Regions from separate parts of the Homo sapiens genome. Here all the other regions are linked to region 1. The links come from fine-mapping of genetic effects on gene expression. A gene starts in region 1. Each other region holds a variant in brackets. All regions are shown on one strand. Distances are from middle to middle. Region 1 holds the start of CDC42EP1 (CDC42 effector protein 1). Region 2 overlaps MAFF (MAF bZIP transcription factor F). Region 3 overlaps MFNG (MFNG O-fucosylpeptide 3-beta-N-acetylglucosaminyltransferase).

Evidence for each region. PIP is the estimated chance that this variant, and not a neighbour inherited with it, causes the effect.
Region 2: its variant is the best candidate, but not a certain one, in a credible set for the expression of CDC42EP1 in cerebellum (GTEx, PIP 0.76).
Region 3: its variant is the best candidate, but not a certain one, in a credible set for the expression of CDC42EP1 in whole blood (INTERVAL, PIP 0.52).

What each region holds. Positions count from the first base shown.
Region 1 is chr22:37,558,912-37,561,664 of GRCh38, forward strand. CDC42EP1 (CDC42 effector protein 1) reads left to right here and starts at 1,569. Exons shown (of 3, transcript NM_152243.3): 1 at 1,569-1,677. RefSeq lists an enhancer at 2,205-2,753.
Region 2 is chr22:38,206,116-38,208,868 of GRCh38, forward strand. All of the region lies in intron 1 of MAFF (MAF bZIP transcription factor F), which reads left to right. Among named protein-coding and RNA genes, the nearest start is that of MAFF, 5.5 kb to the left of the region's middle. RefSeq lists an enhancer at 1,385-1,529 and a cis regulatory region at 1,450-1,467. The variant G/A (reference allele first, on the strand shown) is at 1,509.
Region 3 is chr22:37,476,129-37,478,881 of GRCh38, forward strand. MFNG (MFNG O-fucosylpeptide 3-beta-N-acetylglucosaminyltransferase) reads right to left here. Exons shown (of 8, transcript NM_002405.4): 5 at 768-853. Among named protein-coding and RNA genes, the nearest start is that of MFNG, 8.9 kb to the right of the region's middle. The variant G/A (reference allele first, on the strand shown) is at 1,464.

The DNA of each region.
Region 1 (2,753 bases):
AAGAGGCCTAGCCCCTGGGTGAACAGTAAAGACCTTGTCTCCTCCACCTGCGGGTAAATACAGCTCCTCATCCCCGGCCACAACAGCGCTCAGCCAGTCTCCTTCAGCCGGGTTTGCCTCCGCTGCAGGGTCCTCCACTCCCAGCCTTTGCTGTGCTGTCCCTTGCCAGCTGTGCACTGTGCATTTCCACTGCCCTTCCCTCTGCCTACACGTCCTTTAAGACTTAACTCACAACCATGCAGTGGCTCACACCCATAATCCTAGCACTTGAGGAGGCCAAGGCAGGCGGATCACCTGAGGTAAGGAGTTCAAGACCAGCCTGGCCAACATGGTGAAGCCCCCTCTCTACTAAAAAATACAAAAATTAGCCGGGCGTGGGTGGGTGCCTGTAATCCCAGCTAGTCCGGAGGCTTAGGAGGGAGAATCGCTTGAACCCGGGAGGTGGAAGCTGCAGTGAGCTGAGATCATGCCATGGCACTCCAGCCTGAGCAACAGAGAGAGACTCCGTCTCAAAAAAAAAAAAAAAAAAAAAAAAAAAAAAAAAAAAAAAAAAAAGAGAGAGAGAGAGACTTAACTCAGGTATCATCTCCTCTAGGAAGATTTCCTGAGCCCCCAGGCCCTGCAGGAAGTATTAGGGACCTCTCTGTGCCCTGACAGCCCGAGGACTCTATAGTCAGATGGGAGTAGTCAAAGGAGGGCACAACAACGGGAGGCAGGGGCCAGAGATCTATCTCCCCTCCTTGAGGATGGCACAGGGTCCCGGGTATGGCTGATTCCCTGCCCTCCATGGAGGTGGGCGGGGTGGGGGGAGGGTCTGTAAAGTCTCTGAGATGCGACTTCATTTACCTGCCGAGCAAGCCTCCTAGGTGCTCTTGGAGCAGGAAACACTTCACACAACATCTGATGCTGCTATTATCTATCCCACTTTCAGATCAGGAAACTGAGGCAGAGAAAGGTAAGTAGTGACTGAGGCAGGACAGGAGCCCAGGCTGTCCGGCTCCAGGGTCCCGGTCTTGACGGCCACTCTACCCCACTCTACCAGTCGCCCCAGTATGGCTGTCTTCCTCCTGGGCACCGCGGGGCCTGTACCGGATGGAAGGGAATGAGAATGGGGAGCAAAGGAGTGGGCATGTCATGCCTGTAAACATCAAGGTTTAAAGGCCCAGGCATTCAAGGCCTCAGATCGAGCTTCCCGGTTCCCCGAACTCCCGCAGGGCGCGGCTGGAGGGCCCAGGAGGGAGGAGAGTTCATCAGGCCTGGACGCCCCAAGCAAGGCCACGAGGGGAACCGGTGGAAGAGGGGTTGGCGGCCGGGGACCGGAGTCGCCTCCCCGGGGCAGCCCGCACGTTCCCCGGCTGGCCTTGTCCGGGGTGGCGAGCAGAGGCCTGGCCTGGCCCCCCAGCCGCGTCCCTGCCAGCTCTCGGCGGCCGCGAGGACGGTGCCGGGGAGGGGGCCGGGGAGGGGGCCGGGCCCCGCCCGCGGGCGGGAGGAGACGGGCGGGAGGCGGGAGCGCCCACACCCCGCCCCCGCCCCCGGATCCAGCCCGCGGAGCCCGCGGCCAGGGCGGCGCAGACCGGCCCAGCGACTCTCCCGGGCTGCCAGCCGGGACGCGCGGCCGCCGCCGCTGCAGACGACGAGTCCGCCCTCGTCCCGCGCCCCCGGGGCTCGCGGAGCCAGGTAACAGCCCGGGCGCGCGGGTCCTCGGGGCGGAGGCCGTGGAGGCCGGCGGGTCCCGGCGCCCGCGGGGACTCTGCACCCTACTAGGCTCCCGGGGCCGGAACGGGGACGGGACCCGCCCGGGAGAGGCGCCCCCGGGTGCCCACAGGAAGGCCGGGCGCGGCCGCGGAGCCGCGCGAGGAAACTCCGAGCTTTCGGGCTTCGTGTCCCGTTCCAGGCTGGTGGAGGGGGCAGAGGATCGGACACGGCTGAGCGGCCAAAATGCGCGAGGAGGGGGCGAGCCGAGGGGCAGAGCGGGGGCTGTCTCCGCGCCTTCCTGCGCGGGGGAAGGAAGGGCCGGGGCGGGCAGCGGGCGACGCGGCGGAATGTCTCCCCTCCGCCGAGGCCCACGCGGAGAGCGGGAAGTGGGGGGTGGGGGGCCCGGGGAGATGGACAGGCACCCTGCCCCCCTCCCCGACCGCCGCATTCCAGGCTGGAGCCGCGGATGAGGTCATCCCGTCCGGTTCCCCTCCGGCCAAGACAGCCGGTCGTCCCCTTCCCCCGCGGAGCGACCCTCCGCGTCCTGAGCCCCGTCCCCCCAGGGAATGTTGGATGGCCGAAGTCTTTCCCGGACTTCCAATCCCGGCCGCCCTCCAGATTGTTCTGCCTTTGCCCCAGCAGTGCCAGACCCGCAACATTCGAAGCCCTTTTCCTAGACCGGGAAACTGAGGCTTAGAGAGTAGGGGGGACTGGCCGGGAGGCCGCAGCGGCACTAAACGTGGCGCGGGGACCCGAGACGCGGCCCGCAGCCGCTCCGTCTCGCTCGGTCCCGGGCTGGTTCGGCTCTAACTCGGGGCGGTGGGCACGAAGCGCGTCTCCTTTCCACTTTCCCCGTCGCTCCCTAATGGCCCACGGTGCCCCCCTTGGAATACGGAGGACCGGGTCCCCTAGCGCGACTGCGAACAACTAGCTACCCCGTTCTGGCCTCAGTTTCCCCGTCTCTCCACCTTGAAGCGTCTGGACTTTGAGGAGCAGGAGAAGTCAGCCGACCGGTTTAACCCCTTATTCCAGGGACCAGAGCAGGTTTGGGGGAGCTG
Region 2 (2,753 bases), 650 kb after region 1:
TAGGGAATGGCTGATGGTTCCATCTCTCAGGCCTGGTCTGGAGGCAGTGTTGAGGATTCTAGGCTGTGTCCAAGCTCAGGAGAAAACAGTTCTGTGCTGAGAAAGACTCAGGGGCTGTGGCCTGCCTCACTGGGAATTGGTGCTGTGTGTGGTTAGTGATGTCTCTGTTGCTTGTGGATAGTGGGATGATGGTGAGATGAGGTGATCTTTCTTGCCTATGCCTCCTTTTTTTTTTTTTTTTTTTTTGATGGAGTCTCGCTCTGTTGCCCAGGCTGGAGTCCAGTGGCTTGTTCTCAGCTCACTGAAACCTCCACCTCCCGGGTTCATGCAATTCTTCTGCCTCAGCCTCCCAAGTAGCTGGGACTATAGGTGTGCGCCACCACACCTGGCTAATTTTTGCATTTTTTTTTTTCTTTAGTAGAGACAGGATTTCACCATGTTGGCCAGGCCGTTCTTGAACTCCTGGCCTCAGATGATCTGCCCACCTTGGCCTCCCAAAGTGCTGGGATTACAGGCGTGAGCCACCACGCCTGGCCTTGCCTAAGCCTTTATATTTTACACACCAAGATTATTGTGATTATTCCCACTTAGCAAGGAATCCAGGACTCAGGAAAAATGACTTGTGCATGAGGCCAGACTGTGCCTCTGAGGTTCTGTATCAGCCGCAACACCCAAAGGGCAGTTGATTAACTTGCGTGGGGAGAGGCTTCCCTTCTCCCATTGGGTCTTTCTGTGTAGCTCAGGTGGCCAAGCATCACTGCACGTGCCAGCTCCCCAAACGGCTGGTAAGGGGGCCTGGATACTTAACTGTAACTTGCAAATCGTATCCCTAGCGGGCCCAACACAAATCCTGGAGAATCAGAGCTGGGGTGGCCTTGGAAACTGGCAAGTCCAGCTTCATCTTCACAGGGCTAGGGAAACAGGGCCCAGGGAGGTCGCCCTGCCAGGGCCACACAGGGAGGAGGTGTGTGGCTCCATGTGGCCTCAGGCCTGAATTCTATTATTATTATTATTATTATTTTTGAGATGGAGTCTTGCTCTGTCACCCAGGCTGGAGTGCAGTCGCGTAATCTCGGCTCACTGCAACCTCTGCCTCCCAGGTTCTAAGCGATTCTCCTGCCTCAGCCTCCTGAGTAGTTGGGACTACAGGTGTGTGCCACCAGGCCCAGCTAATTTTTTGTATTTTTAGTACAGACAGGGTTTCACTGTGTTAGCCATGATGGTCTCAGTCTCCTGACCTCATGATCCGCCCACCTCGGCCTCCCAAAGTGCTGGGATTACAGGCATGAGCCACCTTGCTTGGCCATCTTTTTTTTTTTTTTTTTTTTTTTTTTTTTTTTTTTGAGACAGAGTCTCGCTCTGTCACCCAGGCTGGAGTGCAGTGGCGCGATCTCAGCTCACTGCAAGCTCCATCTCCGGGTTCACGCCATTCTCCTGCCTCAGCCTCCCCAGTAGCTGGGACTACAGGCGCCCACCACCACACCCGGCTAATTTTTTTTTTAAGAGGC[G/A]GGGTCTTGCTTTGTCACCCAGGGAGTGCAGTGGCGGGATCACAGCTCACTGCCGCCTTGAATTCCTGGGCTCAATGGTTCCTCCTGCCTCAGCCTCCTGAGTAGCTGGGGCTATAGGTGTGCACCACTGCACCCGGCTAATCTTTTTATTTTTTGGAGATGGAGTCTAGCCATCTTGCCCAGGTTGGTCTTGAACTCTCAGGCCTGAATTCTACCCCATGCTGGCTGTATGAGCCTGGACTACTCTATTGTCCTCTCTGGGCATTACCTCAGGGTTGGGCGAACCAGGGAGGTGACGGTGTGAAGGGACCAGGTTTCAGTCCTGGGCCTTTGCAGCTATTCATTCACACCTATTGTGTGACTTCAGGCAAGTGCTGCCCCTCTCTGGGTCTCTACCTCCCCTTGGGTAAAGGGAGGAGGCAGGACCTGATGGCCTCTAAGGGCCTTTCCTGCAGTTCCCTGTGTGACCCCAGCCAGCTGGGAGATGCTAAATCAGAGCGAGACCCCAGTGCTGGCTACAGGCCTGACCCCTCCTGGACAGACAGCAATTCTAACCTCCCAGCTGCTCACTGACCTCTACAGTGTATACCACTTGATTCCACCAAAACCCTGCGAGGCAGGTATTGTTCCGATCCTTTAGATGGGAAAGTGGAGACCCAGAGAGATGGAGTGGCTCACCCCAGGTCACACAGCCTGAGAAAACAGAGATGCGACTTAAACCCAAGCTTGACTCCCAATCCAGTGCTCCTTTCCCTGTTTCCCACACCCCACCTTTGGGCCCAAAGTCACGTGGATGGGATCCCCTCTGCTCTCTTCCCATTCGCCTAGCATCTGTACTGTCTCTGCCAACAGGCCCAAGGAAGCAGCTGGAGAGGAGGAAGAATTAGAGACAGGGCCAGGAGGTACTGAACTACGTTTCGGCTTGGAACCCGGCTTGGTGACAAGCTGGGTGATGGCGTCAGAGACTCTGACCATCCACCCTTCCCCAGTGCCTGCTCCCTGCCAGGTCTTGAGATGGGTGGCCTCAAGCACCCAGAGCTGACTCAGCCTCTCCCTGTCTGGTGGAGAGACAGCAAGGAAATACAACCCATTACACACAGGGGTGGGGGTCCCTAACAAGTCCTAGGGATCAGGGAGGGCTTCCTGGAGGAGGAGATGTCTGCACCCAGGGCCGAAGGATGAGTAGGAGTCTGCCAAACAAAGTAGAGGGGAGTGAGGGGAGAGAAATATCATGGGGTGGGAGGT
Region 3 (2,753 bases), 83 kb before region 1:
CAGAGCTGGCTCAGAGTCAGTCCTCAATACAAGGGAGTGGCTGCTGATGGTGCTGTTAATAATAATAATAGCCCGGAAAGACCTCCAGAAGCCAGGCCTCGCCACTTCTAGAACACCTGTGTCCCACCCCCACCCACACTGCGGCCTCCACTACCCCTGAGATCCCCTCATAATATTAGGAGTAATATCATCTCCCTTAGATGATATTATGAATAATATCACAGGATGTACACCCACTGTGCTATTAGGAGTAATATCATCTCCCTTAGATGGCCCAGTGTATAGTGGACTGTCCCAGCTCAAATACCACCTCTTCCTGGAAGCCTTCCCTTCTTCCCTCACCCAGAAGGCCCTTCTCCCTCCTCTGAAGACCCTTAGATTTGGCCTTCACCTCCCCTACGGCATTGACCAGTCAGAAAAGGGCGGTAAATAGCACCTACCAGGGCCAGCCCAGACATTTTCTCATTTAACCCTTACTACACCATTGGCCACTGCATTATCAGGTCCATGTGCCGACGGGGGGACTGGGGCTCTTGGAGATGACATGACTTGCCTGTGAGTGGCACGTCATGCGCTCAGCCGTGCAGCCCCTGAGGGCAGGTGGCAGGTGGCTTGTTCACCACCAACTGCCGCTCTGTGACACACGCAAATGAGGAGCAGCTTCTCCTGAGCTCACTCTCAAAGCCCTTCCTGCTGCAAAGGCCCCTCCTGTACCCCAGCTGCCACCCCCTCCCCGCCTTCCTGCCCACCCCTGGGTCTCTGCTTACCTGGCCCACGGAGCCATCTTCAAAGCCAGTTTGCGATTGATGCAGAAGCCAGCACCCCCAGTGGCAAACCAGAACTGTACCAGCCTCTGAGAGAGAGGAAGGCCAAGGGGCAGAGTGAGCCTGGTGGCAGTTGTGGGGAAAAGGGACAGCCAGGCCACCCTTCACCCCCAACCAGCATGGCTCAAAAGCCCTTTATTTTGAATCTCACTAGAGTCTTGCTACAACCTGGCATTATTGCACCCATTCTATAGATAAGAAAACAGAGGCCCGAAGTCACATAGTTAATTATGAGTGGTGAGGTCACTGATCAGACTCAAGTCCAGCTGAATTCCAGTTAAAGGGGACAGGTGTTGTTTTACCCACCCAGCCACCATGCCCCTTTCCCCTGAGAAAGGTCTCTACCTCACTCCATGTGGCTTGGGAGGGGCTGCCGAACATGGCACCTGCTCTCCTGGGCCACAGAGGTGGGCCTAGGTTGACGGGGCCTGAGTGTGCATAGGAAAGATGTGGCTGGGAAACAAAGGTCAGGCTGTGTCCAATACAAATCACTAACACTTTTTTTTTTTTAAGAGACAGAGTCTTGCTCTGTTGCCCAGGCTCAAGTGCAGTGGCACCATCTCTGCTCACTGCAACCTCCGCCTCCCAGGTTCAAGCGATTCTCCAGCCTCAGCTTCCCAAATAGCTGGAACTACAGAC[G/A]TGCGCCACCACGCCCAACTAATTTTTGTATTTTTTAGTAGAGACAGGGTTTAACTATTTGTTGGCCAGGCTGGTCTCAAACTCCTGACCTCAGGTGATTCACCTGCCTCGGCCTCCCAAAGTGCTGGGATTACAGATATGAGCCACCGCGCCCGGCCTCAGATCACTAACACTTTCTAGTGTTGACTTCGTGCCAGGTCTCATTCCAAGGACTTGGAGAGATGACCTCATTTCATTCTTTCTTCTGTGTTCACGACCACTCTTTGAGTAGGGGCTGTTATCACCCATTTCACAGATTAGGAAACTGAGGCACAGAGAGGTGAGGTGACCTCAGTCAAGGTCACAAAGCCAGGAGGTGGCAGGGCTGCCGTGTAAACCCAGGGAGTCAGGCTCCAGCGTGCAGTTCTCCACCCCAGAGGCAAACTGCTTAGGCAGAGGTGAGTCGCCAGCAGTGAAGTGGTGTGAGAGCCTGGGGGACCCCCTGGCTCCCCTGGAATCACTCATACACAGAGCCCTAGGGCCCAGAAGAATTTAATTAAGGCTCAGAGGCTGATTAGCTACTGATAATTAAGGCTCTGTGTTTTCTGCTCTTGGTTTTCCTAATGAAGCAGATGGGGACCTGGGAAGGGAGGTTGAGCCCCGCTGTGTGCCCAGCTCCTGCACCAGGCACTGCCTCTAGAGAGGGACCTCCCGATCTGCCTTCTTCCTGGAGCCAAGGGAGCCCTAGGGCCAGGACCACTCTAACACCTGATGCCCAGGGGGTCCTGGGGACAGGGAGAGAACCATGCAATATTTGGGACATACTTATACTAAAAATTTCCTCATTATTTATGAGAAAGTCAAGTTTAACTGGATGTAGTGGTTTTTCATTTATTTGTTTAATGAATCTGGCAACCCAAATCAGTGTCCATCCAGGTCAGGAACTGAGGCGGGTACAGAGCCCCCTGTTTTGCCAGGTGTCGACTCTTCAGTCACAGGCTAGTGGAGGTGTCTGGAGGGAGAGGGTGCCCCAGGAGGGGAAGGTGGGGAAGGGTTCTGGGGCTCAGGTGGCAGCAATCACCCAGCCCCACAGTATTCAGCAATTTTTTTTTTTTTTTTTGACGGAGGGACGGAGTCTCGCTCTGCCGCCCAGGCTGGAGTGCAGTGGCACAATCTCAGCTCACTGCAACCTCCGCCTCCTGGGTTCAAGCGATTCTCCTCTCTCAGCCTCCCGAGTAGCTGGGACTACAGGTGCCCGCCACCATGCCCAGCTAATTTTTGTATTTTTAGTAGAGACGGGGTTTCACCATA